Regions from separate parts of the Homo sapiens genome. Here all the other regions are linked to region 1. Evidence: fine-mapped expression QTL. A gene starts in region 1. Each other region holds a variant in brackets. All regions are shown on one strand. Distances are from middle to middle. Region 1 holds the start of TRIM11 (tripartite motif containing 11). Region 2 has its middle 49 kb from the start of RHOU. Region 3 holds the start of LOC124904538 (a long non-coding RNA gene).

Region 1 (9,987 bases):
AGGCAGCTAATGGGGGAGGCAAACAGGTTTTCCTGCTTCTGCGGGTTCTCAATGGCCTTTAGTTAACCTTAATCCTAATGCCTGTCAAAACACAAAATTAAAACAGATTTAGAGATCTTTGTTGTTATTTTTTGTTTTTTTCTTGAGTCAGAGTCGCTCTGTGGCCCAGGCTGGAGCACAGTGATGCAATCATAGCTCACTGCAGCCTCAAATTCCTGGACTCAAGTGATCCTCCTGCTTCAACCTCCTGAGTAGCTGGGACTACAGGCACTTGCCACCAAGACCAGCTTTTTTTTTTTTTTTTTTTTTTTTTTTTGTAGAGACAAGGTCTTGCTATTGCCCAGGCTGGCCTTGAACTCCTGAGCTCAAACTATCTTCCCGCCTCAGCCTCCCAAAGCACTGGGATTACAGGCGTTAGCCACTGCACCCAGCTAAGAGAAAAGATTTATTTGCAAGGCCACTGAGTGAAGAGGAGGGAGAACAGCTCTTAAACCTGCCTCCCAAGTGATACAGCTTGGGAGTCTTTATGAACTACGGAGGCAGGGTGGTCCAGCAGGCCCATTCTGTGCAGGTGTCGTCGGGGTGCATGGCATTTCACAGGACACAGGTACCAGAAACGGCAGCCTTAGCATGATCTGAGGTTGGAAGTTTTGGCCCTCTCACATCAAAAGGCCACCTCGGGCACTGGGACAGGTCCACTTGAAGGGCAGATGGTCTCAACTGGTTTCAGCTGGACAGGAGCTGCCCCACATTCCTGAAGCGACCAGTCCCATGGTGACCTGTGAATATTATCTATAAAGAGCCAGTGAAGGGTGGGCGTCAGCATTCAGAGGCACAGCCTTCAGCTTCATGGAAAAAGGAAAAACAAAATAACAAAAAGCAATCAGGGCAGGCTGACCTGATCAGTGAACCCCTTGGTTTCATTAGCACCAGTGACTCCATTCTGGTTGGGTCTGGTCTTCTAGGACCCAGCGCAGGAGCCCAGTTCAAAACAGTGGCCCCTGAGGATCACCTGAGCCCAGGAGTCTGAGACAGCAGTGAACCATGATCATGCCACTGAACCCCAGCCTGGGCAACATAGCAAGACCCTGTCTCTACAAAAAAATTAAAAATTAGCTGGGCATGGTGGTGGTGACACATGTCTGTCGTCCCACTTCCTTGGAAGGCTGAGGTGGGAGGGTCACTTGAGGCCAGGAGGTCAAAGTTGCAGTGAGTTGTGGTTGTGCCATTGCACTCCAGCCTGGGCAACAGAGCAAGACCCTGTCCCTACACAAAATTTAAAAACTAGCTGGATGTGGTGGTGCATGCCTGTGGTCCCAGCTACTCAGATGACTTGAGCCCAGGAGGTCAAGGTTGCAATAAGTGCCACTGCATTCCAGCCTGGGCAACTGAGCGAGACCCTGTCTCAAACAAAACAAAACAAAAAACAATGGCCACCCATAAATTTTGTTTAACATGCCCAAGAGGCTTATCTGGGGGTGGACATTCTGAACCTCCTCAGAGCAAGGGTGCATGGGTGTTTGGATGTGTAGAAGTTGCAGTTCGGGGCTCGGAGGGTTACACTCAGTGTATCACAGGATGGCAGAGGTGGGGGCCTCTGTCACAGTTCCTGGTCCCCAACTAAAGCTCCAGTTGCTGGTGATCTTGTGGGTCACCAGGGCCCTGGGGAGAGGTGCCAGCATCCCTGGAGCTGAGCCACCTGCTGGCAACATGCTGGGCTTCTCCACTCCTGCAGGGCAAGGTGAAGGAGCGGAGAGAACGCATTGTGCTGGAGTTTGAGAAGATGAACCTCTACCTGGTGGAAGAAGAGCAGAGGCTCCTCCAGGCTCTGGAGACGGAAGAAGAGGAGACTGCCAGCAGGCTCCGGGAGAGCGTGGCCTGCCTGGACCGGCAGGGTCACTCTCTGGAGCTGCTGCTGCTGCAGCTGGAGGAGCGGAGCACACAGGGGCCCCTCCAGATGCTGCAGGTGAGCCAGTAGGCTTGGCAGGCAGGGTGGGATGTGAGCTCTGACAGGCATGGGCAGGGGGCGCTGGGCTTGGGGAAGAGGCAGCCAACGGGAAAGGGCTGTTAGCTCCCAGTCTGCTAGTCCTGGAGGCTGGGTGGCTGAGGCCAAGGTGCGGGCAGGCCTGGTTCCTCCTGAGCCTCTCTCCTAGGCCTGAAGATGCCGTCTCCTCCCCGCGTCCTCATGGCATCATCTCTCTATGCACGTCTCTGTCCTAATCATCTCCTTGTATAAAGACACCAGTCAGACTGGATTAGGGCCCACCCCAGTGACCTCAACTCCCTCCTTAAAGATGCTATCTCCAAACACAGTCACATTCTGAGGTCCTGAGGGTTCAGGCTTCAACCTGTGAATTAGTGGGGACACAAGTCAGCCCCTTACAGGTTCCAACCTGAGACAGTGTCCCCATTTCCTTCCAAGTCCAGAGAGGTGGCTTGGGACACCTGGCAGCCAGGTGTGGCTTTGGGACAGGGACTCCATGTCTCGGTGTGGAGGAGGTGCACTGTCCCAGGAGTGAGTTGTGTGGCAACGGCAGTGGGGAGGTGAAGCAGCCAGCCTGTCTGCCGGGACCAGCCTGTGTGCCATGGCCCTGGAGAGGGGGCTTGATTACGGCTGATAAGACGCCATCTCTACAAAAACTTAAAAATATTAGCAGGGCATGGTGGCGTGCGCCTGTGGTCCCAGGACTCAGGAGGCTGAGGCAGGAAGACTGCTTGAGCCCGTGAGTTCAAGGCTGTAGTGAGCTATTGCGCCACTGCACTCCACCCTGGGTGATGGTGAGATCACATCTAGGAAAAAAAAAAAAAAGGAAAAGGAAAAACAAAGCAGCCTGTTCACAACCCACTACATTGGTTTGCTGACCAACTGAGGGAAAAGCCCCTGCAGCTGGTAGAAGGGTGCTCCTATGAGCAGAGGGCCAAGCGCGCCACCTGCATGAGAGTCCCTGCCTAGAGTTAGGGTCACGCTCTGGCAACTAGAAATATGGCCTTTGGAAAACAAGTCCCTTGTAGCTTCCAGGCCAGAGAAGTAAACAGTGATCTCTTTAGGGAACTCTGAATCCCTAAAGAGGCTACAGAAAATCCCCAGGTGCCTCAGTCTCTTACCCACCCCCCTCCCTCCCCAAACTGCACCCAATTGCGCCCCCACCCCATTCCTGCTGAGTGGGCTGCACCCACCTGAAATGGGAGAGGAGGGTCAGTGTTGAGTGGCCACTTGCCTGGAAGGGGTCCCTCCGCCTCTCCTGAGTTGCAGGACCTCAGGCGTGTGGCCGTGGGCTGACAGGGTAGCTCAGCTTAGGTGAGGCACTGGGGGCTCTGGTGGTAGTGGGAGCTAGGGCAGTGGGGAAGGCTCAGGAGTGCCATGAAGCTCAATTGTGGGAAGGGAATGCCCAGGGGACAGGATGGGTCTTGCCCTAAGACACGGACAAGAAGGGAGCAGGGACATTGAGGTGAGCCAGGAGCTTGGCTCACTCCCCACCCTCCGTCCCTGTCTTTTGCAGGACATGAAGGAACCCCTGAGCAGGTATGTGGTCCCCTCAGGCAGGGGCGGGGGCAGTGGCAGCGGTGGGCGGGGGGGACAATAAGACTGTCGGGCCAGGGGAGTCAATAAGACTCCCCTGTGTGTGCCCACCGGAGGAAGAACAACGTGAGTGTGCAGTGCCCAGAGGTTGCCCCCCCAACCAGACCCAGGACTGTGTGCAGAGTTCCCGGACAGATTGAAGTGCTAAGAGGCTTTCTAGGTAAGTGGGCACCCAGGGCCAGGACCTCTGACCCAGGATCTCTTGGCGATGCCCCACTGTACCCCCTAGCCTCGGAAGCCACCAATGGGGGGGGTTCTACAAGTGCACTGCCTGGTGACGGTCACTGGCTATTCACTGTGCCTTCGTAGGGCGGCGTTACTGGTGGTTCTAATTCATGGGATGAATCTTGTTGAGTTCCCAGTGGTCTCTCTGCCCAGCCCCCTGTACCTTATTGCCACCAAGGCCCACACACAATTGGTGTGTGGAAGCATCAAGTAACCCCAGATTCACAGCAGGGGAGGCCTCTGCGGAGTTAGGGGACCATTGGCCACATCCACCACTAGGGCCCGGGGACTCCCACCTTTGACCCTGAATGCCCCACACCTCTCCCCATCTCTCCACCACCACGCCCATCTACAGAGGATGTGGTGCCTGATGCCACCTCCGCGTACCCCTACCTCCTCCTGTATGAGAGCCGCCAGAGGCGCTACCTCGGCTCTTCGCCGGAGGGCAGTGGGTTCTGCAGCAAGGACCGATTTGTGGCTTACCCCTGTGCTGTGGGCCAGACGGCCTTCTCCTCTGGGAGGCACTACTGGGAGGTGGGCATGAACATCACCGGGGACGCGTTGTGGGCCCTGGGTGTGTGCAGGGACAACGTGAGCCGGAAAGACAGGGTCCCCAAGTGCCCCGAAAACGGCTTCTGGGTGGTGCAGCTGTCCAAGGGGACCAAGTACTTATCCACCTTCTCTGCCCTAACCCCGGTCATGCTGATGGAGCCTCCCAGCCACATGGGCATCTTCCTGGACTTCGAAGCCGGGGAAGTGTCCTTCTACAGTGTAAGCGATGGGTCCCACCTGCACACCTACTCCCAGGCCACCTTCCCAGGCCCCCTGCAGCCTTTCTTCTGCCTGGGGGCTCCGAAGTCTGGTCAGATGGTCATCTCCACAGTGACCATGTGGGTGAAAGGATAGACACAGACCGGGGGACTCGGGCACTGCTCCTGGCTCTGCAGAAGGTGTGGGCCTTCTGCTTACTGCAGGCCACCTGCCAGGGTTCTCTGGCATCACGCTGGCAGCCATTAGACACACAGGGGGGTTTCTCAAATTCTAAATATAATTGTGATTAGAACTGTCAAACATTAAGAGGGTATACTGACAGATGCTTCCTAGAGGAAACTTTTGAAAGCCCCTGCGTTCTGAGTGGACCGATTTCTAAATCCATACCTACACACCAGGAACAGCGTGGTCACGTTTTTTTTAGCCATGCCCCCACCCCCACTTTGGAATGACAGGAATCTGTGGCTCCCAGCCCCCCCAGGGGTTTAGGTTACTCTGTCAAAGAAGTAGAAATATCCTATGGTGGGGAGGAGCGGGGGTGGTTGCTGTGTCAGGGATGGTCCCAGGCTGCCCATAGAAATGTCCTATGCATCCTATTGGGTCCTTCGATGGGGGAAAATGGGAAAGGCTGAACCCGTAAAAAGCCTCAGAGCTGCCCACCCCCATCCCGTTCGATCCCCAAAGTTGCACGAGCAGGGGCAAAATCCCAAAGAGATTAGGATTTATGTAGGGGCCTCTTTTCCACAGCGCCCTTACCTTTTCCAAGGAACCCCCCACCCACCCCTGCAGGGTCAAGCACTTTAACAGCCTGTGTCAGTCACTAGCAAGGCAGAATTCCAGAGTAAGCGTACTCCTACCTCGACAAAGCCGGAGTGTCTGCGCGAGGGGCTGCCTGGAACAGCATGCCCCTTTGGAGTGGTTCCCGCAGAAAGAATGTGGGCCTCCTGGAGAGCTGGTCCTGGAGGGATGCCCCCGTCCCATCCCCCAACTCCAATCATTCTGACCTTGGCCTGCCAAGGCTGTGAGGGCCGGGCCTTCCGAGGATACCCGCCCTGGGAAGCACGGGCTGAGGGGGTGAGGACGCACTAGGGGTATGGCGAAGGGCTCCAATGCCCCAGGCTGCGGACTCCCTTAGTCCTTGCAGTTGCTTCCGTGTGCCCCGCCCTGAGTCCCCATCCCTCCTTGCCCTGCCCCCTGCTCCATCCCTCCCCTGCGCCCCGCCCCCTGTCCCCATCCCTCCCCTGCGCCCCGCCCCCTGTCCCCATCCCTCCCCTGCGCCTGAGTCCTCCCCAGGGCAGGGGTAAAAGACCTGGCCACAAGAACCGGAGCGGTGGTGACGCCAGGTCAGCAAGTGAAAGCTCTCCAATTCCGTCCCGCCCGCGGGCCGCGTGACTGGCAGCGGCCAATCGGAGGCAAAAGCGGGTTGTTCCAAAAAAAAAAAAAAAAAAAAAAAAAAAAAAAAAAAAACACACAAAACCCACCCAGTCGCTTCCTGCTTCCGCCTCGGCTCCTCTTCCTGCCGGCATCCGGGATCCCTACGTCCCGCGTCCCCCGAGCGCTCGGAGCCTACGCGCCCAGCGCTACCGAAACCCAGAGTCCTGCGCCCTGGAGTCCCCGCGCCCCGGAGCCCGAGCACCCGGGAGTCCCGAGCCTCGCGCCCCGGAGTGCCCGAGCCTGCGCCGCCGCACCCGGATACCCCGCGTCCCCGCGAGCTGCCGAGGCCGCCCGCCGCCGCCCCGCGGACAGTACCGCCTTCCTCCCCTCTGTCCGCGCCATGGCCGCCCCCGACCTGTCCACCAACCTCCAGGAGGAGGCCACCTGCGCCATCTGCCTCGACTACTTCACGGATCCGGTGATGACCGACTGCGGCCACAACTTCTGCCGCGAGTGCATCCGGCGCTGCTGGGGCCAGCCCGAGGGCCCGTACGCGTGCCCCGAGTGCCGCGAGCTGTCCCCGCAGAGGAACCTGCGGCCCAACCGCCCGCTTGCTAAGATGGCCGAGATGGCGCGGCGCCTGCACCCGCCGTCGCCGGTCCCGCAGGGCGTGTGCCCCGCGCACCGCGAGCCACTGGCCGCCTTCTGTGGCGACGAGCTGCGCCTCCTGTGTGCGGCCTGCGAGCGCTCTGGGGAGCACTGGGCGCACCGCGTGCGGCCGCTGCAGGACGCGGCCGAAGACCTCAAGGTGCTCCTGGGCGGGGGTGGCGTGCAGGGGCGTCGGGGAGCCGGGGACTGGGGAGGCCTGGGCGGGTGGGAGGTTTGGGGGACTGCTCCGGGAGTAATCTGTCTCTGTCTAGGGCGGGGAGCTCAGGATGCAGCCTGCTGTGGGCCTGTGAGGGGGGTGTCGCGCAGGGTGGCTGTGGGGGCTCATGACACAGCCTGTTTCAACCAGGCCCCTTGAGGCTGGGACCATGGCCGCCAATGAGACCCTGCTCTCGGGGGTGAGGGGCGTACCTCTCATAGATAGAGGCTAAGAGAGGAAGGTGGAAGGTGGAAGGTGGTGGAGTGGGGGCAAGGAAAATGTGGCCATACCCTGGCCAGCAAGGAGCTGGAATCAGAGGAAAGTGGGAGAACCTCAGAGGTGGCCGATCCTAGATGGACTCCCTGCAGGGACTGTGTTAGCAGGTCAGTACTTAAGTCCTGGGAAAGCCCCAGACTGGGCAGGATGAGGGGGACACAGTCGTTTCCTCTCTAACCTCCCCTCCAGGGCTGCCCTGCATTTCTGGGTGGGGTACTGGGAGCCATCTCTGCCATCTGAGATGCCAGGGCTCAGCCTGCCTTTTCTCCCCTTGTCTTGCTGCTTAAAACCCAAATAAAACCCGAGCTGAAGGGCCTGGGGCACACGTTCCCTGGCCTGCGCTCCCTCCCGCTGTCCTCTTTCCTCGCTGACCTGCTGCAGGTGTGCTCCTGGGAGCCTACGTGTGGGGCAGATGGCAGCATCTTTGGAGCTTTCTTGATTGCACTTTGTGTGTTGCATCATGGTCACTTGTGTGTGCCAGATGAGCAGTTAAGGCAGTGTTAGAATCAGTACTGAGCTTGATCTGTCCCTATCACAGAGCAAACTTCTGGGATACTAGAATAAATCTGAATCTGTCCCCTTCTGCTTTGGATTTTAGCAGAAAGGTGGTTTAGAGCCATATCCGTGGGCTTGTTCAGACACAGATTCATTTGGGTTTTCTTTTCTTTGCCCATGCAGGAATGTCTACACCTGAAACATGTTAGCCCAGCAGAATTACCCTTGTGACACCAATTACCCCAATGGGTGCAGAGAGTGCCCAATAGCTCTATAGAGTTGACTCGATATAGTTTCATGGGATAGCACTTAACCCTTTCTTTTGCAGGTGAAGAAAAAAATTTCCCTCTACCCTGTTAGGTTCAGTGGCTCAGGGCTGCAAATTAAACTGGCACAAGACAAATTAACAGGAAAAAAAATCATACAATTTGATTAATATTTTAAGTTTCACATGCACAAGAACTTCATAGAAAAGCGTATTTCAGCAAAGGTTTGTGAATTGTGGAGAAGTGACTGGACACAGAAATGGGATTGGGCGTCTAGGACTGATAAATTGTGGGAAAGTGACTAGGAAATAGATGGGAAGAATTAACACAAGATAATGGTCATTGTAGTAAGGTCTGTTTAGGCAGAATCATCTCCCAGGATTAGAGTGCCCTCCTCTTCCTGGTAGAGAGAGGGTGCCTTTCTCATGGGGAATGAATACCCTACTTTTAGGCAGATAGGAGTACAGAGAGCTCTTCCTGCATCTGCTTTTACTCAGAATAATTCTTGTACCACAGCGGTATATTTGGGGATGACATCCTGTTCTTCACTGCCTTAGAGCCTAGGTTATGTTAACCACAGCAAACTGCTTTTACCTGCCCCCATGGGCCTAGAAAGCTCAGTCCCACCTATGGGGCTGTGTGTCCACTTGCCAGAGCTGGGGCCCATTAGCTCCATGACAGGTTCACTCCTTGCCTGGCCCTGACCTGGGGTCATGACAGCTGAACAAGCCCCAGGCTGGGTTGCCCCGAGGTGGTAAACAGGGAAGTCCCAGTAAGCTCCAGTTCCAGGAAGCAGCACCATGGGAGAGAGAAGATGGCCCCCAGATCTCTCTGGGTTGTGTGTCAGATGGCACTTGTGTGGGGAGGGGGTTTGCCACAGGAAGGAGGAGGCCAGGGAAGATCCCAGGCCTGCACCAAGCCCCAGCATCCCAGTTCTGACTACACGCAGGGTAAGAGGTTTCTGTTCTGATCTGGCCAGAGACACAAAGATGCAGGTACCTGAAATGCAAGATCTTTGCCATGCTGGGTATGTTGTGCTGCTTTACAGCCCATTCCATCTGATCAAATGCTGTTTGTAACCTTAGTGTTGAAAACTGAAAACGTTGGCCAGGTGTGGTGGCTCACGCCTGTAATCCCAGCAATTTGGGAGGCCGAGGTGGGCGGATCACCTGAGGTCAGGAGTTTGAGACCACCCTGGCCAACATGGTGAAATCCCATCTGTACAAAAAATACAAAAATTAGCTGGGTGTGGTGATGGGCACCTGTAATCCCAGCTACTCAGGGGGCTGAGGCAGAAGAATCACTTGAACACAGGAGGCAGAGGTTGCAGTGAGCCGAGATCGTGCCACTGCACTCCAGCTTGGGGGACAAAGCGAGACTCCGTCTCAAAAAAAGAAAACTGAAAATGTCCCGTAGGGACTGAGGCATTGAGGGAGAAGTGAGAGGCACTGGGCCAAGTGTTTGAGGTGGGGTTGGGGTCACAGGGGCCAGGCCTGAGTTTTCTGGAACAGGTCGGCAGCAGTGAGGAGAGAGGCCTGGGGACAGGGACCGCCATTTGGGGTTCTTGTAGCTCACGTGAGAGCTGAGCCTAGGCAGAGACAGTAAAGCAGTTGGACATGTCCTTGGTGCTCCAGCGGTCTTCCCGAATCGTGAGGCCAAGTGGTGAACTAAAGTGAGCACCTGGAGCCAGGCAGCTGGGCTGAAGTCCTGGCTCTGCTACCGGGGCAGACTTCTGGACCCTCCCAGCACCTCCATCCTTCCAGAGCGTGGATAGCGAGAGATGAGAGCCAAGACTTGGGGTGGCTGAGAAGCAAAGAGGTGTGGCCAGCACAGGGCCCGTTGCTGATAAGGGTGTCAGATGGGGTGGAAGTGAGCAGACCCTTCGAGAAGTGGGTTCAGGGCACCCCAAGCACACACAGTACAGTGAGCTTGTGTACAGGATTTTCACTGCTTCCTGGTATGCACAGCATGAGGAACCGTGGGAATGAGAATTAAGGACCAAGAAAGCAGAATGGAGGTGTACCCATCCTGGAGCTTATTACAGTGATAGCTGATGAAGCTGAAAATGCACAAGGTCCCGAGTGGCTTGGAGAAAAGATAGGGTGGGTAGCCAGGCATGTCTGTCCGTGCTGACT
Region 2 (9,987 bases), 280 kb before region 1:
TTGGTGAGAGGGGATAGCAGAAACTAGATTTATAGCTGTACTGTTTGGGTCAAATTTTACCCACTGTTCTTAGATACTGAGGATTAAGGATGAAAAATTATAGCCTGCAAAACTTATGTCCACACAAAATCTGTACATAGATATTCATAGAAGCTTTATTCATAATTGCCAAAACTTGGAAATTACTAAGATGTCCTTCAGTAGGTGAATGGATAAGTAAACTGTGGTACATCCTGAATATCATTCATCACTAAAAGGAAATAAGCTATTGAGCCTCTACAAGACATGAAGAACCTTAAATGCATGAAAGAAGCCAATCTGAAAAGGCCACACACTATAAGATTCCAAGTATATGCTATTCTGAAAAAGACAAAACTATGGAAACAATAAAAAGATCAGTGGTTGCCAGGAGTTGGAGGGAGGGAGGGAGGGAGGGAGGGATGAGTGAGTGGAGCACAGATGACTTTTAGGCCAGTGAAACTCCTCTGTGTGATACCGTAGTGGTGGAAACATGTCCTTACACATTTGTCAAAACCCATAAAATGTACAACACTAAGAGTGAACCTTAATGTAAACTACAGACTGGTGATAATGATGTGTCAATATAGATTTATTGATTGTAACAAACGTACTACTCTGTAGGAAATGCTGATAGTGAGGGAGGCCTGGAAAGAGGATATGGGAACTCTCTGCATTTTCTGTTCAATTTTCTGGGAACCTAAAGAGGTTTTGAAAAATAAAGTCTATTTAAAAAAAAAAAAATTATAAGCTGAATCCTCGCAGTTAATTTAGCTTCTTTCACAACCAAACTTTTACAAGTAACTGAGTTAAGTCGTTTCCTCCCTAATTTGAAGGCACTATTAATGACAACATAAAAGCACAAAACACAGTACTTAAGCACTATGTGATACACTCTTTTAAAACTAATCTTCCACCATGCACGGAGGCTCACGCCTGTAATCTCAGCACTTTGGGAGGCCGAGGAGGTCAGATCATGAGGTCAAGAGTTCGAGACCAGCCTGCCCAACATGGTGAAACCGCGTCTCTACTAAAAGTAAAAAAATTAGCCAGGCTATGTGGTGGGCGCCTGTAATCTCAGCTGCTCGGGAGACTGAGGCAGAAGAATCGCTTGAAATCAGAAGGCAAAGGTTTCAGTGAGCCGAGATCACGCCACTGCACTCCAGCCTGGGCAAAAGAGCAAAACTCCATCTCAAAAAAAACCAAACAGCCGGGCCTGGTGGCTCACGCCTGTAATCCCAGCACTTTGGGAGGCCAAGGCGGGCGGATCAGCTGAGGTCAGGAGTTCGAGACCAGCCTCAATATGGAGAAACCCCGTCTCTACTAAAAATACAAAATTAGCCAGGCGTGGTGGTGCATGCCTGTAATCCCAGCTACTCAGGAGGCTGAGGCAGGAGAATTGCTTGAACCTGGGAGGCGGAGGTTGCGGTGAGCCGAGATCATGCCATTGCACTCCAGCCTGGGAAACAAGAGCAAAACTCCATCTCAAAGAGAAAAAAAAAAAACAAACAAACTAATCTTCAGCATTTGGTCTCTCAAGTTGCCCACTTGGCCCTCTTTCAAGTGTACCTTCCTTCCTTTTCTTCCTTTCCTTACTTCTCTAAAGCTTTTTAATAAACTTTCACTCCTGCTCTAAAAAACAAAAACAAACAAACAAACAAAACAAATCTTTTAAATAAAAATCAGTCTGATCAAAGAAAATTACAGCAAGTAGTACAGAGAGGTAGCTCTTTAACACTTAGTAAATGTCTTAAGTGTATTGTTTGGGGGAAAGGACACATTGAAACAGCGTTAAGAATTGATTCTGCGTGCTCCAATTACATTTTTTTTAAATTCCGGTTTCAGGCACACTGGAAAGTGTGGGAAGAGAAAGTTCTTGCTGAAATTTTGATTAAATTTTCAGTCTCAGGAGACTGACCCAAACATTTCATGGTTCACAGATGGCTTATAACAGTGGTTCCCAACATTTTTGTTGCCAGGGACCAGTTTCGTGGAAGACAATTTTTCCACGAACTAGGGGTGGTAGGGATGGTTTCGGTATGAAACTGTTCCATCTCAGATCATCAGGCATTAGTTAGATTATCATTAAGAGCCAGCACCCTAGATCCCTCACATGCACAGTTCACAATAGGGTTTGAGCTCCTGTGAGACTAATATCACTGCTGATCTGACAGGAGGCGGAGCTCAGGTGGTAATGCTCACCCACTGCTCACCTCCGGCTATGCAGCCTGGTTGCTAACAGACCACAGACCAGCACCTGTCTGCAGCCCAGGAGTTGGGGACCCCTGGCTTAAAACAAAGTAGTCAAGTGATTGCATATTCATTTGTAGCCCTGAAATGACAACAAAATAGAGCAGCACTACAGTCAGCAGACAGTTTCCATAGGGATCAACAGGCAGATTCAGCTTGATTACAGCTACTGATGTCATGGAAGTATCATGTCCCAATCGCGTTTCTCACTGCTGACTTTATTACACATTTGCTGGGCCCTATCTGGATCCAGAAGTTCCAATGGCCTTTGGATTTACCCTTTCACATTGTCTGGCTTCTACTACAGATTACATATGACCTCTTTTGTTTGACTCTTCGGCTTCTTCGAGGGTTGGGTCTGACAAACTCAGGGTCCTTTGCCTCTCATGTTGGAATAAGATGGAAAAAACCTACAAAAGCTAGAAGATAGTGGGAAGAGAAGCTCCAAATGTGTGGGTTATTCAGGGATGAGGGAGACGGAAGTGAGGGAAAAGCAGCTTCTGAAGGGACTGTTCAGGCGGAGAAGGAGGAGAGGTCAGTGGTGCCTCTTCCCAAAGTCACTTTAAAATTACTGTCCATTCTGTCTCCCTAGAGCCTCTTCAAAGTGCCACCTTTACTGCTGCCAGTCTCATCTCACACACCCATATGTAGCTTTATATTTGTTTCTCTGTTTGAAAATCAGAAGGGAGGCTGAGGTCTTTGGACACACTCAGCTAAACTGACAAATCCAGCTGACCTGCAAGGACCACAGTGACACTGAGAGAATTCTACCTGCGCTGGTGACCTGTTCATTCTGCTTGACCAGGGAAGCAGAGAAAAGCACCATTTTGGACAAATACTGAAAGGCAGTACCAATCCTGGGACTTCTTGGTGTTTTGTACATAACTTTTGGTATCAGCACACACAGCACTTTACAACTGGCCATGGCCAGGCTCAGCAGAACTAATTCATGAGCCTGGGCTAGAACACAAATCAGCAGGAAGGTTTGCAGGAAAGGCACGATTCCCCACACTGGGTGGACTCCCTTGTTTAAGTGACAGCAGGCAGACATGGGAGGAATGGAAGGAGGGGTTAAATAATAGAGCACGATGCTAAGGAGGTCAAAATGGGAGATTTGCAACCCAAATGCCCTGGAAATCTGCTCCATTCTATGGCTGCAGTCCACATTTCTCAGTCCATAGGCTGCCAACTCACAAATGTCTGCTGTTCTTCACACATGAAAGAGGCAGTGGAAGGATTCGGGGGAAACCTGTGTCAGCTACAGAGAAAAAATTCATGTTCATGTCCTTTAGACAGCAGCTTAACAACATTAACAACATGGCCTTCTTCAAAAGGCAGTGGGAGGCATGAGTGGAGAGCTGTAACAGGTTAGGGTTGGTTCCAGCTACAGTTCCAGAAAACCCCAAGTCACAATAGCTCATCTTCATGGAGCATGTACTGTTAACCAGGCACTGTCCTAGACACCTGGGACCCATCCGTGAACAACAAACAAACAAACAAACAAAATCCTTGCTCTTGTACAGCTCACATTTTGTGGGGTGAGGGTGGGGTGGAAACAATACTCAAATGAAAGGAAGGAAGAAAGGAAGGAAGGGAGGGAGGGAGGGAGGGAGGAAGGACAGAAGGAAGGAAGGGACAGAGGGAGGGAGATGGAGCAGAGGAGGGAGAGGGGGAGAACAATATGTTAGAAAGGGATAACTCTTGGTGACCAGGGAAGTCACTCCCACGGCTATGTGGAAATTAGCCTGAGGCTTAGCTTTCATTATCACTGTCCCCCAGGGTGTGCTTGTCTAAGAGGTATTCCGCCGAGCCAGATTCGGGCGCTCCCATCTTGCACAAGTTGGTCACGTGCTCACCCAATTCTTTGATGGCTTTCACCTGCTTATTCAGGTAATGTGTCTCAATGAAGTCACACAAATGGGGGTCATTTTTGTCAGTGGCCAGTTTGTGCAGTTCCAGTAGTGACTGATTCACACTTTTTTCCAAATGTAATGCACACTCCATCGCATTCAGCCCGCTCTCCCAGTCATCACAGTCTGGTTTCTTGATATCCTGAAGGAAGATTCGGCCACCTCGTTGGTTCTGCAGCTTCATCAGTTTCTCAGCATGTTCCCTCTCCTCATGAGATTGGTGAAGAAAGTATTTGGCAAAGTTCTTCAAGGCAGTGCATGCATGTTGGGGTTTCCTTTACCTTTTCTATAAGTTGTACCAAAACATCCACTTAAGTTCGTTGATTTGTACCATTCCTTCAAATAAAGAAATTTGGTAACCAAAAAAAAAAGAAAGGGATAACTCTTGGGAACTGGGGAATAGAGAGAAGAGTACAGAGGGGAGGGACAGTCACGCTGAGGTGGGTGAGCACTCCCGCAAGTCTGGGTGGAGGCAGTGCCGGTCAGTGGAGCGGGCCAGTGAAGCCCACAGGTGCTTTCAGAGGAGTAAACAATTGTTCACTCAAATAGTGGAAAATGAGTTTTGTGTACTCTATCCCCTACTAGTCAGCTCACTATAATTTTTTATAATTCCTTAAATTCTCCCTTGCCGGCCAGGCACGGTGGCTCACGCATGTAATCCTAGCACTTTGGGAGGCTGAGAAGGGTGAATCACCTAAGGTCAGGAGTTCGAGACCAGCCTGGCCAACATGGTGAAATCCCCTCTCTACTAAAAATACAAAAATCAGCTAGATGTGGTGGTACACACCTGTAATCCCAGCTATTGGGAGGCTGAGGCAGGAGAATCACTTGAACCCTGGAAGCGGAGGTTGCAGTGAGCCAAGATCACGCCACTGCACTCCAGCCTGAG[A/C]GACAGAGGAAGACTCCCTCTCAAAAAAAAATTCTCCCTTGCTTTTTGGTTGGGATTATCAAGGCTTTAAAAGTTAGGAATTTAACATTTTAAGAGCTGACTCTGTTGCCAGACCAGACCTTTAAAAAGCCATTGCTTTTCATAGCAAAAACCGCAATGAGTTTTGCACCGACCCAATACTAAAAGAGGGCAAGTGCTCACCATGGCTTGCACTAAATATCAGTTGTCTCATGGTGTAGGAGAGTATTCCTCTAGATTTCTGAAACTGAAATTCAGAAATATATTGTCAAACATAATAGGTTTTAAACTGCAAATATGTAATTATTGTATTTTATATATTTTTATTGTTTTATTGCCATTTTAGAAATTTTAAGCATACAATTCAATGGCATTAATTATATTCATAATGTTGTACAACTATCACCACTATTTCCAAAATATTTCATCTCCTCAAACAGAAACTCTTTATTATAATAATATTAGTTAATAAAACACATTGAGTAACTACAAAGTACTAATCACTATATAGCTATTGTTTCATTTAAATATCATAGAAACCTCATGAGTTAGTTATTTTTATTTTATTCATGAAGAAGTTGAAGATAAGGGAGATTTAACTAATTCCTCTAAATCTAATAAGTAGCAAAATTATAACTAAAACTCAAATATAACACAACCCTATAAGCAAGTCAGATTTTGGGGTCAATGGACTAATACAAAAGTCTGATCACTAACTTACATTGTGTTTCCTCTTAATGGTTTTATTTCATCTTCATATAATAAGATGTCAAAGTGTAAAACTCTGATCTTATAAACTCTGATCAGAATAAAATTACTAAGATTCTTGGCTTTAAAAATGCTTCCATTTACAGATTCTTTTAATAATAGCTCTGGGGATAATTAAGGGTTGCACTAGATTAACTCTTGAAGAGAAAGGAGTCGGTAGACAAAAAAGTTCTGAGTGTCAAATGCTACTGATTAAGGGTTTCACTAAAGGAGAACAAAGAGGTTTTTCAATTAGAATGTAAGTCAATGAGAAGATTAATTTTGATTAACAGAAATACATTTAACCTATATATAATTTTAACAGGAAGATATATATTCACATACAGTCATTTCATGAGTCTCTGAATACTTTAGTTATCTTCTAAAACTCTCAAATTCCCCAGTAAATTCTCAGAGCAGTATCCTATCATTCTCTGGCTCCAAATGCTCAATAGATTTCCATTTTAATTTTTCACAGAATCAACCATCCAGAGAATGGTGCTCCATTTGGTTCCAGTTTTGTTTCTCCTAATTTCCCTTTGTGGTCATTTCTCTTTACAGCATTTGCTCTCTTTCTAGTCTCTCACTCTGAGTTTCAGTTTCCAAGTATTTGTTAAAACTCATTCCCAAATTCCTACTGTCAGAGGCATTGGAACCAGAGCAACTCCATCTTAATAGAGGCTGGGTAAAATAAGGCTGAGGCCTACTGGGCTGCATTCCCAGACACTTAAGGCATTCTAAGTCACAGGATGAGATAAGAAGTCAGCACAAGATACAGGTCATAAAGACCTTGCTGACAGAACAGACTGCAGTAAAGAAGCCAGCCAAAACCCACCAATACCAAGATGGCAATGAGAGTGACCTCTGGTCATCCTCACTGCTACGCTCCTACCAGCACCATGGCAGTTTACAAATGTCATGGCAATGTCAGGAAGTTACCCTATATAGCCTAAAAATGGGAGACATAAATAATGCACCCGTTGTTTAGAATATCATCAAAAAATAACCATAGAAATAGGCAACCAGCAGCTCTCGGAGTAGCTGGTCTGCTCTGTCTATGGAGTAGCCGTTCTTTTATTCCTCCACTTTCCTAGTAAACTTGCTTTCACTTTACAAACTCGTCCTGAATTCTTTCTTACACAAGATCAAGAACACTCTCTTAGGGTCTGAGCTATTATCGGGACCGTTTCCTGGAACAGCACCACGTTCCCTTTTGGTCTGCAAGCCAGAAACTGGAAGTCATCCTTGTGGTTCCTTCTCCCTCACCCTCACAACTACTCTATTACCAGAGCCTGCATGTTTTTTCCTGCCTTATGGGGGTGGCTGCAAAATCTAGCACCCAAACAGGAACGATTCTGAGAGTGAAAAGGACTAATATTAACAGTTATGTCAGCAGGGCACAGTAGATCACGCCTGTAATCCCAATACTTAGGCCGAGACACGTGGATCACTTGAGCCCAGGAGTTCAAAACTAGCCTGGCCAACATGGCAAAACACCATTTCTACAAAAAATACAAAAATTAGCCGGGCATGGTGGTGCACGCCTGTAGTCCCAGCTACTCAGGGGGCTGCGGTGGAAGGATCACTTTAGCCCAGGAGGTGGAGGTTGCAATGTGCCAGATCTTGCCACTGCACTCCAGCCTGGATGACACATGAGACCTAGTCTCAAAAAACAAACTGGCCAGGCGCAGTGGCTCACATGGGTAATCTCAGCACAGTGGGAGGCTGAGGCGGGAGGATCACCTGAGGTCAGCAGTTCAAGACCAGCCTGGCCATCAGGGTGAAACCCTATCGCTACTAAAAATACAAAAATTAGACCATCATGGTGGCACACACCTGTAATCCCAGCTATCAGGAGGCTGAGGCAGGAGAATTGCTTGAACCTGGGAGCTGGAGGTTGCAGTGAGCCGAGATCATGCCACTGCACTCCAGCCTGGGCGACAGAGCAAGACTCCGTCTCAAAAAGAAAGAAAGAAACAAACAAAAACCAGTCTTCAACCACAGGCATACGCTGGGATTCTATGATCTCCAAGTCCACAGATCCTCAGTTTTCTCCATGTCCATAGTTTCTGACCCATCATTCCAATTGTCTTCTAAGGATCTGGTTCTCATGGAGGCACACCTACCCTGACCCCTCTCCCTCCCATGCTGCACAGGCAGCCAGACACGGGGATCTTTTCAAAATGTCAACGTGGGGAAATCCATCTTGCCCACCCCCACCGCACAGTTTCTTAGGACCTCCTGAAACCGTGCAACTCTGGCTGCCATCACTCATATTGGCTCAGAATAAACCTCTTTAAAAATATTTTGGAAAAATTTGGATTTTGCCATCATCAATTACAATTTGTTAAAGAGTGTCCTTGTTATAGAAATTTTTTAAATTATGCTGTCAGCAAATTTGTCTATTTTTTCCTTTATGGATTTTGTGGGGGTTTTTTCTTTAAGTAGACATTCATTAAATCAAGAACTCAAAAACATTTTCCTCTATCATTTTAGTATATTTCCCAAATGGAAAATTTGTTGTTCCAACATCACTGATTGGATAATTTATCCCACATATATCATATGTAAAATCTCAATATCTACCTGATCCTATCTCCTAAGTAAGCTCCATCGATGTATTTGGCTATTCCCACAATAGTACCACCAAATAAACTTCATATTTCTCCTTCTCCCTTTCCAGAATGCAAACAGGATGCTAGGGGTGAAATGCCTGTCCTGTGACCAGAAGACAATAGGGTGGAAGACAGGTGGACCGGTTGCCTCTGTGGCTATCAGATAATGCCTCCTTCAAACCATGATTAGGTCAGTGGCTGCCTATGGGGTTTTCAGTGACTCAGAACCGAGTTAAAATCTTAACTGGTACAAGATCTGTCAGGTGTAGTTGACTCCAGCCCAGATCCCAAGGGTGGCAATTTCTTCTGGGCATTCAACTCAACAAGGATTGATTCACTTACTGAAATTAGTGGTTGAGAAACAGTTAACATCCTCTCCTAATGAGCTTAACCAGAAGATATACAGTATGGGGCTCATGGGGCTGCCTTTTGCCTTTGAGAAAAGTCAAAGCACCATGGGGCTACTTCACTCCACTCACCCCCACATCTCCATTGCTCTGACTCAACCTCTCTGTGTCTTATCTGAGATTTCAGTGTCAGATTTGAGTGACATCCAACTCCCTTCCCATACTCCCTTTAGAATTACAAGTAAATTTACTGATATTTATATAAGTGGCAATGACGATGGATGGTGGTGGGTCCGGTTTTCTGTTTCTATGTTGTGAGGTTTTTATTTGTGTTTCTATTGATCTGCCTTTTCCTCTTTACTCAACATTATGATTTGTTTCTGCCCCACCCTAACTGATCAACGTACTTTGTAATCTCCACCACCCTTAAGAAGTTTCTTTGCAATCTCCCCCACCCTTGAGAAGATTCTTTGTAATTCTCCCCACCCTTGAGATGTACTTTGTGAGATCCACCCCCTGCCTGGAAAACATTGCTCCTAACTCCACCGCCTATCCCAAAACCTGCAAGAACTAATGATAATCCCACCACCCTTTGCTGACTCTCTTTTTGGACTCAGCCCACCTACACCCAGGTGAAATAAACAGCCTTGTTGCTCACACAAAGCCTGTTTGGTGGTCTCTTCACACAGAAGCATGAGACATTTGGTGCTGAAGACCCGGGTCAGAGGGACTCCTTCGGGAGACCAGTCCCCTGTCCTCACCCTCACTCCGTGAAGAGATCCACCTATGACGTCAGGTCCTCAGACCAACCAGCCCAAGGAATATCTCACCAATTTCAAATCGGGTAAACAGTCTTTTCACTCTCTTCTCCAGCCTCTCTCCCTACCCTTCAATCTCCCTGTCCTTCCAAGTCCAGTTATTTTTCCTCTCTAATAGAGACAAACGAGACACATTTTATCCATGGACCCAAAACTCTGGCGCCAGTCACCAACTTAGGAAGACAGCCTACCCTTGGTGTTTAATCATTGCAGGGTGTGCCTGCTTGATTATTCACCCACACCCCATTGGTGTCTGATCACCACGGGGATGCCTGCCTTGGTCATTCACCCACATTCCCTTGGTGGCAAGTCAATTGTGGGGACACCTGCTTTGGCTGCTCACCCACATTGCAGCCCAGGACTGCTCCCCACCCC
Region 3 (9,987 bases), 39 kb before region 1:
AAAAAAATTAGCCAGGTGTGCTGGTGGGTACCTGTAGTCCCAGCTACTCAGAAGGCTGAGGCAGGAGAATGGCATGAACCCGGCGGGCAGAGCTTGCAGTGAGCAGAGATCATGCCACTGCACTCCAGCCCGGGTGACAGAGCGAGACTCAATCTCAAAAAAAAAATGTGTATATATATATATATATATATATATATATATATATATACATACACACACACATATATATACCAGAGACACTAAATATTCAGGATCACTAAACGCATAGGAGGAACTAAATACTAATGATCACAAAATATACAAGAAGCACTAAATATTCAGGATCACTAAATATATTAGAGACGTTGAAAATCCAGGATTGATAAATGTATGAGAGGCACTAAGTGTTCATGATCACTAGGTATACAAAGTGCACATAAATATTCATGGTGACTAGGTGTACAAGACGCACTAAATATTCATGATCACTGACTATACAAGAAGCACTAAATATTCAGGATTGCTAAATTTATGAGAGGTACTGAATACTTATGACCACTATAGATACAAGATGCAGTACGTGTTAGATGTTAATGATCCCTAAGTATACAAGAGGCACTAAATATTAAGATAAATAAACATGAGGCTTAGGTATCTAGGATGACTAGATATGCAAGAGGCACTAAATATTCAGGACAACGCTAAGTATACAATAGGCACTGAATATTCAGGATACGCTAAACAGGCCTGGCTCATTTGAGGCACTCCCGTTGGGATCACCATTCCAGCCCACCTTTCTCTGCAGCGTGGCCAGGACATCCTGTGTCTCAGTGGCCACACCTGCGTGCCATTGCCCGGCACTCTTGCTCTCGCACCTGAGGCCTGGTCTTCGTAAGTAGGACTTTATCCTGGGAAAAGTCTGACAGCAGAGAGAGACAACACCTATGGACACGTGCACCCAGGATGGAGGGGTGGAGAGGGGTAAGTTGACTCACCTAGTGTAGGTGTGACACTCTTACTCTAAAATTGTCTGTGAGCCCTTCCATGCCACGACCTGTAGCTTCAAGGTGACTTTTCACGAGTCCTCCGGGCACAGCAGCTGTTGGAGGTGACCCCAAGGCAAGGGAGCCCAGACACACTGCTTTCCATCCAATCACCACTTTACCTCCCTTCGTGGCACTGAGTGGGTGACTGTCACGTCACTCCCGCCACAAGCCGAGCTCTGGGAAGGCAGGAGAAACCCCGCCTGGCTGCATTCTCAAGGACACCTGCACAGTGGATCACTACAACCAGTGGGACCGTCCCTGAAGGTGTGCGGGGCAGCATGCTTGTGCATGATAGACTTGCCATCATCACATTTTTTTTTTCGAGACAGCGTCTCAATTTGTTGCCGAGACTGGAGTGCAGTGCAGTGGCAACAATCACAGCTCACTGCTGTCTCAACCTCAAGCAATCCTCCCACCTCAGCCTCCTGAGTAGCTGGGACTACAGGCAGGCTCCCCAAACCTGGGTAGTTTTTTGTATTTTGTAGAGACAGTGGTTTCACCATATTGCCCAGGCTGGTCTCCAACACCTGTGCTCATGCATTCCTCCCGCCTTGGCCTCCCAATTACAGGCATGAGCCATTGTGCCTGGCCCTATCATCACAGTTATAAAACTATCACATTTCCAGCCCCAGGAGCTTTACCCACACAGTCTCAAAGCCCTTGCTTCTTGGAAAACCCCCAGAGGCCTCACAGGGCCCTACAAAGAAAAGCCCCACGCTCTTTGTTGTTGAGAATGCTTTACTGGTCCCTTTTTATTTTTTCCCAGCTTTATTGAGGTACTGTTACCGGAAAGGGGTCTCGATCCAGACCCCAAGAGAGGGTTCTTGGATCTCATACAAGAAAGAATTCAGGGCAAATCCATAAAGTGAAAGCAAGTTTATTAAGAAAGTAAAGGAGCTTTTCACAAGATGGCACTGAAAGCGAAGAAGGAAACTCCTGCCCTTCCTAAAGCCGAAGCCAAAGCAAAGGCTTTGAAGGCCAAGAAGGCAGTGTTGAAAGGTGTCCATAGCCACACACAAAAAAAGAAGATCCGCATGTCACCCACCTTCTGGTGGCCCAAGACACTGTGACTCCGGAGGCAGCCCAAATATCCTGGGCAAATTGTCCCCAACAAGCTTGACCACTGTGCTATCATCAAGTTTCCACTAACCACTGAGTCTGCCATGAAGAAGATAGAAGACAGCAACACACTTGTGATCACTGTGGATGTTAAAGCCAAGAAGCACCAGATCAAACAGGCTGTGAAGAAGCTCTGTGACATTAATGTGGCCAAGGTCAACACCCTGATCAGCCTGATGGAGAGCATATGTTCAACTGGCTCCTGATTACAGTGCTTTGGATGTTACCAACAAAATTGGGATCATCTAAACTGAGTCCAGCTGGCTAATTCTAAATATATGCATATATTTTCACCATTAAAAAAAAAAGGAAGAAAGTGAAGGGATAAAAGAATGGCTACTCCATAGGCAGAGCAGCTCTGAGGGCTACTGGTTGGCCACTTTTATGGTCATTTCTTGATTATATGCTAAACAAGGGGTGAATTATTCATGCGTTTCCCAGGAAAGGGGTGAGCAATTCTTGGACCTGAGGGTTCCTTCCCTTTATAGACCATATAGGGTAACTTCCTGATGTTTCCATGGCATTTGTAAATTGTCATGATGCTGTTGGGAGTATCTTTTACTTATAATTAATGATAATTAATGTATTATAATGAGCAGTGAGGACGACCAGAGGTCACATTAGTCGCCATCTTGGTTTTGGTGGGATTTGGCTGCCTTCTTTACCGCGTGCTGTTTCATTAGCAAGGTCTTTGTGACCTATATCTTGTGCCGACCTCCTATCTCATCCTGTAACTTAGAATGCCTAACCTCCTGGGAATGCAGTCCAGCAGGTCTCAGCCTTATTTTACCCAGCCCCTATTCAAGATGGAGTTGCTCTAACTCAAATGCCTCTGACAGTATGATCTACAAATAAAGCTCGTACATATTCAAGGTGCACAGCATGATGTCTTGGTACATGTCACGTGGTGAAATGATTACCACAGTCAAATCAATTAACACACACATCACCTCATGTGGTTACCTGTGTGTGTGTGCATGTGTCTGTGTGTGCGGTGACAACATGTAAGATCTACTCAGTAAATTTTATGTCCATGATATGTTATTAACCAGAGTCTCCATGCTGTGCTTCAGGTCTCCAGAACTACTTATCTTATAGCTGAAGCTTTGTACTCCTCCTCACCCAGCCCCTGACTTTTTTAGATTCCATATATAAGTTGGCTCATGCAGTATTATTTGTCTTTCTGTGCCTGGCTTATTTCACTTAGCATAATGTCCTCTGGGTTCATCCATGTTGTTGACATGGTTTCCTTCTTTTTTAGACCTGAATAATTTTCATTATTATAGTGTAGTATAGCATGTAACACTAATATCTATACCACGTTTTCTTTATTCATTCACTGATGGACATTTAGGTTGTTTCTGTATCTCAGCTATTATGAATAGTGCTGTAATTAACATGGGAGTGCAAGTATCTCTTTATGACAGTGATTTTATTTCCATTGGGCATACTCAGAAGTGAGATGGCTGGATCAACAAAATTAAAAGGCAACCTATGGATGGGTGAAAACATTTGCAAACCAAACATCTGGTAAGGGGTTAATACCCAAAATATATAAGAGCTCCTACAACTTATTAGCAAAAAACAAAACCAAAACAAGAACCAAATAACCTAACTTTAAAAATAGACAAAGGACCTAAATAGGCATTTCTCCCAAGAAGGCATACATATGGCCAACAGGCATATGAATAGGTGTTCAACATTACTAATCTAGGAGGGTCGGTAGGGTGGCTCATGCCTCTAATCCCAGAGCCTAAGGTGGGAGGATTGCTAGAGCCCAGGCTTTGGAGACCAGCCTGGGCAACATAGGAAGACTCCGTCTGTACAAAAAATTTTTAAAAATCAGCGGGGCGTGGTCGTTCCTGAGGTCCCATCTAGTCCAGAGGCTGAGGCGGGAGTATCCCTCGAGCCCGGGAAGTCTAGGTTGCAGTGAGCCGAGATTGCACCACTGCACTCCAGCCTGGGCCACAGAGGGAGACCCTGTCGCAAAAAATAAATAAATAAATAAAATTCAGGAAAATGCAAATCAGAATCAGAATGAAATGTCTCCGAACACCTGTTAGAATGGCTAATATCAAAAAGACAAGAGACAACAAGTGTTGGTCACGATGTGGAGAAAAGGGACCCTTCGCACGCTGTTGAGGGGAATGTAAACTGGTGCAGCCATCACGGAAAATAGGACGGAGGTTCCTCCAAAAACTCAAAACAAGGTCCAGTCTTTCTGAGGCCCCCTTCTGCTTGCCTGTGACCACCCTTCTTCCAACCCTCCAGTTCCAGGTCCCCTCTGCTGCCCTTAGACGCGGCGTCTTCGCACTCTGGGCCTTACCGCGGCTGCTCCTCCAGGTTTGCTCTCCAACTGCAGCCTTCCCTGTCCTACGCGACCACCGGCCTCCTGGCGCCCTCTGCCTATAGTGAACACCCCTCCAACACCGTGCCATCACCTCACGTTTACTCTCACCTCCTCCTCCACTAAATTGCAAGCTCCAGGGAGGCATGTTTTCATCTGATGCGTTCACCCCAAGTACTAACAGCTATGCCTGGCACATAGTAGATGCTAAATGGATATTTGATGAACTTAAAAAAAAAATTCAAAGGATTCCTTTCCTCTCTGGTCAATGGAAGACGGAGAAGGAATGAAATTGAACTTCAATAGCTTAACAAAGGGCGGGAGGGTGGTGTGTTGACCGCCCCCCCAACCCCCCAACGCTGGGCCCCAACCCACCCCGCCCCGCCCCCACGGGATGCTTTTCTACAAGGGTGAGAGGAGCTGACTCCGGTTTGGACTGGAAGAAAGTTTCCAAGAAAATCAAATTAGTGGCCCAAACACATACCCCTTCTCCGCCCCGCGCAGTCTCTGAGATGCGTCCCAGCAATTGCCCAGGGACTTGGAGGGAGCGGGCATTTTCAGGCTGCACAGAGGCCATCTGGGGAGAAGGTGTGCGGCTGTTTTGCTGAAATGTAAAAAGAGATGTCCTTTGGAGCCCGGGACGCCGTTTCCGGCTGGCTACCCGAGGTTGCGTGCAAGGGG[CGGGT/T]CCTTAGGCATGAAAATGACCCTCCCGGCCGCAACGGCGCACAGGCCCAGGGCCGCTGAGCCCCTCCAAGCCGGGATTCGTTTTGGAGACCTGCGCGATGGAGCGGACAGCGGGACTGGGGGGCGCCGCAGTGCAGGGTGTACAGCTGCAGAGAAGCCGGGGATACAGGGGTGCGGGGCGCAGGGATAACGGGCGCAGGGGACGGTCACGGGTGCTTTCTAGTGGGTTGTGCAGGCTCAGGTTCCCAGCGCTGGGTGGTTGCGACTCTGCATAAAACGCTAAGCTTTTGAGGCCCTTATTCAAGCTCGGGGACGTCTCCCAGTTGGTCAGTTCAAAACCTCTGGGCCAGGTTGCGTTGGTGGCAGATTCCGCCCGCTAAGTCTCCGCACGCTGCCGCGGGTCTGCTCCTCCCCCGGGGTCAGAACCTCTGACGCTCTCCTGCTTTTACACGCGTTAAGTCACTGGTTTCTTGCAGCATCACGTGTTCCCTAGATACATGGGCTGAGGCTTATTCTTCCTGAAAGTGAGGGTTTTTTCCTTTGGGCTTTCCAGAGCCAGCCCGCGTGGAGAGTGACGAGTGACAGGCGCCTTTGTTCCGGGCTTGCATGGGTGGGACGCGCCCCCTCCTCAGCACTCAGCCCGGCGAGCCTGGCCCTCCCGTCGCCCCTTCTTAAGTGCATTTGTCCCGGGCTCTCGATTTTGTTTACTCTTTCCTGCTTACACAGGTACACACACACACCCAGACCTAAACTTTATATAAACAGACATGAACTTAAAGAAACAAAATCCCCCTATGTGTCAACGCGCTCCTTTTTAACAAAATCAACAAAAATTCAACACAATGTTATTTCCATCCTTTTGTTGTCTTATTAGAAACGTGTATGTTAACTTTCCTCCTTTTATAAATGGGGCATGTTCTAATTAACCATTTGTATGGTTGTTTTTAGTGCTCAAATGGTCACATTGCAGCCCCGGGGAGGTATTTTCAAAACGCTGCTCTGTCATTTTAGGATCACCCTGATTGTTGGAAGCACCTTTGCTTTTGTTTTTGTTTTGTTTTTGTTTTGCTGAGACGGGGTCTAGCTCTGCCGCCTAATCAGGCTCACTGTGGCTTCAAAACTCCTGGCTCAAGCAATCCTCCCGCCTCAGCCTCCCAAGTAGCTGGTACTACAGGTGAGTACCACAGCGCCTAATTGGTTTTTTGTTTTGTGTGTGTGTGCGTGTTTTTGGTTTTTTTTGTTTGTTTGTTTTTGTTTTTGTTTTGTTTTGTTTTGTAGGCAGGTTCTCCCTATATTGCCCAGGATGGCCTTGAACTCTAACCTCGGCCTCCCAAAGTGCTGGGATTACAGGTGTGAGCCACTGGCACCCGGCTCATCTTTGCTTTCTGACAGCAAAAAGTTATTTCAGACCTATCATGGGTGTTTTGTTTTGTTTTGAATTTTTGTTTTTTTGACTCCAGATATGGACTTAACTGCACTCCAAGGAGTTTATGTTGCTCTTCATGAAAATTAGTATTATAGACAAAATTGAAGCTGGGAATCAGCTACTTTTGTCTCTCATTTTCACTGTTCTCTTTTTTTTTTAGATGGAGTCTCACCCTGTCCCCCAGGCTGGAGTGCAATGGTGCGATCTCGGCTCACTGCAACCTCTGCCTCCTGGGTTCAAGCGATTCTCCTGCCTCAGCCTCCCAAGTAGCTGGGAGTACAGGCGCTGCGTCACCATGCCTGGCTAATTTTTTGTATCTTTAGTAGAGATGGGGTTTCACCATGTTGGCCGGGCTGGTCTCGAATCCCTGACCTTGTGATCTGCCCGCCTTGGCCTCCCAAAGTGCTGGGATTACAGGCATGAGCCACCACGCCCGGCCACTGTTCTCTTTTTTTAATGATGGTGTAGCTGTCTACCCTGTGGAGATATATTGATCTTCAAAATCACCGTGATAGTACAGTTATTATGGAAAACATTATTAAATTCAAAATAGAATTCCCAAACGATATAGCAACCCCACTGCTGGGGATATATCTAAAGGAAATGAAATCCGTATCCAGAAGAGAGATCTGCACCATGTTCACTGCAGCACCATTTACAATAACCAAGACATGGAGTTAACCTAAGTATCCATTGTCGGATGAATGAGTAAAGAAAATATGGTACATATGTACAATGAAATACTATTCCGGCCTTAAAACATAATGAAATTCCCTCATTTGTGACAACAGGGGTGAAATGAGAACATTACGTTAAGTGAAATTAGCCAGATATGGAAAGACAAACACTGCATAATCTCACTTCTATGCGGAATCTAAAGAGGTTGATATCATAAAGCAGAGAGTGGAATGATGGTCACCAGGATCTGGGGGCCAGAGACGCTGACTAAAGGGCACAGGAGGGGGCTAGGGCACGCTGACACAGGAGGAGTCAGTTCAAGACATCTAATGTACAACACAATGACTATAATTCACAGCAATGTAGTACATGAAAATTGCTAAGAGAGTAGATTTTAGGTGTTCTCACCACAAATAAATATGTGAGGTAATGTCTATGTTAATTAGCTTGATTTAGCCATTCCCCAATCCATATTCCCAACACAATACATATTTCAAAACAGTACCTTGTACACCATATATACAATTTTTGTCAGTTTAAAGAAATAAAGAAGAAAAAAAGTCACCATGATCATTGGTAGTCCTTCCATGATAATGCTGATGCCTCATCCTCAAGTGAGGACATTTGTCTCAGTCACTTCAAGCTGCTATGACAAAACACCAGAGACTGAGCAATTTGTAGACAATAGAATTTTTGATCACAGTCTGGAGGCTGAAAGTTCAAGATGAAGGTGTCAGCAGGGCTGGGGTCTGGTGAGGGTCCTCTTCTGGGCTGTAGAGTGCAGTCTTGTGGTTGCAACCTCATGTGATGGAAGGGGTGAGGCAGCTCTCTGGAGTCCATTTTACAGTGGCCCTAATCCCATCAGTGAGGGCTCCACCTTGATGACCTAATTATCTCCCCAAGGCCCCACCTCCTATGCCATCCTCACATTGAGGGTTGGGGCTTCCACAGATGAGTTTGGGCTGGGGACACAAATGTTACCCGAAAGGGGTCCCAGTCCAAACCCCAAAAAAGGGTTCTTGGATCTGGTGCAAGAAAGAATTTGAGGCAAATCCATAAAGTGAAAGCAAGTTTATTAAGAAAGTAAAGGAATAAAAAATGACTAATCCATAGGCAGAGCAGTGGCATGGTGCGCTGGTTGCCCATTTTTATGTTTATTTCTTGATTATATGCTAAATAAGGTGGGGATTATTCATGAGTCTCCCAGGAAAGGTGTGGGCAATTCCCAGAGCTGAGGGTTTCTCCTCTTTTTAGACCATATAGGGTAACTTCTGGATGTTGCCATGGCATTTGTAAACTGTCATAGCACTGGTGGGAGTGTAGTGGTGAGGATGACCAGAGGTCACTCTCATCGCCATCTTGGTTTTGGTGGGTTTGGGGCAGCTTGTTTACTGCAACCTGTTTTATGAGCAGCGTCTTTATGACCTGTATCTTGTGCTAACCTCCTGTCTCATCCTGTGACTTAGAATGCCTTAACCTCCTTAATCTCCTGGGAATGCAGCCCAGCAGGTCTCAGCCTTATTTTACCCAGCCCCTATTCAAGATGGAGTTGCTCTGGTTCACACGTCTCTGACACAAACATTTAAGCCAAAGCAACATTGTGGAAAGAAAGGAAAGACATTTCTGAAAACAAATGTGTGGTTCTGCCTGATGGTTCTGGTGAATCTTCCGCACTTGCTATGACAAGAAATTCAAGGAAAATAATAGGTGAGAGTTGTTTTGTGAAAAATGCTGCAACTTTGGCATTGTTGCTACTGCAATTTGGGCCCAGGGTCTTGCAGGTTGGGGTTTCACCCTCCTCATTTCACATAAACCCGGGGCCAGCCTTCACTGGATGCTAATTGGCATATCTACAAATAGGCCAGCCGGTCTGTGTCTCCTGATTTAGAGACTGTAAACTAAAAATAAAATCCTAAGCACCCCTAACCAACTGCACAGACACTCTGTTGGTAAAAGGGACCCCATAGAACCTTAAAAACTGAGTTTCTGGCCATGATAGGGTGGGAGTCAGACACATCTCATTATACCCCTTTCTGTTGAGGTTTAGACACAACTGACAGCATTCATGTTAACATAGAGACAGTCCAGGTGAGGTTAAGAGAATTTTTTAAAAAAACACAGACACAGGATGGAGTCTTTGTGGCAATAAGGTGACAAATTATAAACAAGACCTAAGGGTTAAGTCAGCACCCTACACTTAAAGAATAAACCATGTTTTCACTGCTGCAAGGGTTTTCTTTTACTCCAGCAGCTAACCAAGCACTGGCCTCCAGCTAAGCAACATTAAGACAATTGCAGCTTACCCAGCTCACAGAGGCTGACTCTCCGACCCCCTGCTCCACCAGCCATGATGGCAGCATTCACTGGACAAGACACTGACTTCAAGAGCTTTCTGCTGATGAGAGACCACGACCTTGGGCTAGTCCTGGCCAGTTTACAGACGCTGTGCACTTGAGCACCTTTGAGTCCTGGAAAGACCTAATTGGAATACATTTACATGTGAAGCCTCCACCTCAAGGTAAGCATGCATCACATGTCATGTGCATGTGTGTTCCGTGAACATGTGTGAAGGCTACCCTCATGGATCTCCATAGTCCTCCCGTAGGCTGTGGAATATGTGTGTTTGGCAAAGCCAAACAAGCACAGAGCTCCTGCCCCAACTCCTCCCTCCCCCAAAGTGCCTGGGCTTGGCCCAGGCACTGGGTTTG

What was found.
Region 2: its variant is fine-mapped to the expression of TRIM11 in whole blood (TOPMed, PIP 0.92).
Region 3: its variant is fine-mapped to the expression of TRIM11 in whole blood (INTERVAL, PIP 0.99).

The regions. Positions count from the first base shown.
Region 1 is chr1:228,402,925-228,412,911 of GRCh38, reverse strand. It overlaps TRIM11 (tripartite motif containing 11), which reads left to right and starts at 6,077. Exons shown (of 6, transcript NM_145214.3): 1 at 6,077-6,758. The coding sequence starts at 6,351. It overlaps TRIM17 (tripartite motif containing 17), which reads left to right. Exons shown (of 7, transcript NM_016102.4): 4 at 1,736-1,966; 5 at 3,501-3,523; 6 at 3,637-3,740; 7 at 4,161-4,977. The coding sequence ends at 4,711. LOC124904537 (a long non-coding RNA gene) reads right to left here and starts at 3,641. Exons shown (of 2, transcript XR_007066918.1): 1 at 3,178-3,641; 2 at 1-2,227. RefSeq lists enhancers at 4,515-5,174, 5,366-5,415 and silencers at 5,766-5,835, 5,976-6,065, 6,126-6,365.
Region 2 is chr1:228,681,861-228,691,847 of GRCh38, reverse strand. It overlaps a transcript of RHOU not described here and the pseudogene FTH1P2. Among named protein-coding and RNA genes, the nearest start is that of RHOU, 49 kb to the left of the region's middle. RefSeq lists an enhancer at 9,431-9,931. The variant A/C (reference allele first, on the strand shown) is at 5,068.
Region 3 is chr1:228,441,567-228,451,553 of GRCh38, reverse strand. It overlaps LOC124904538 (a long non-coding RNA gene), which reads left to right and starts at 6,522. Exons shown (of 2, transcript XR_007066919.1): 1 at 6,522-9,797. It also overlaps the pseudogene RPL23AP15. The variant CGGGT/T (reference allele first, on the strand shown) is at 5,173.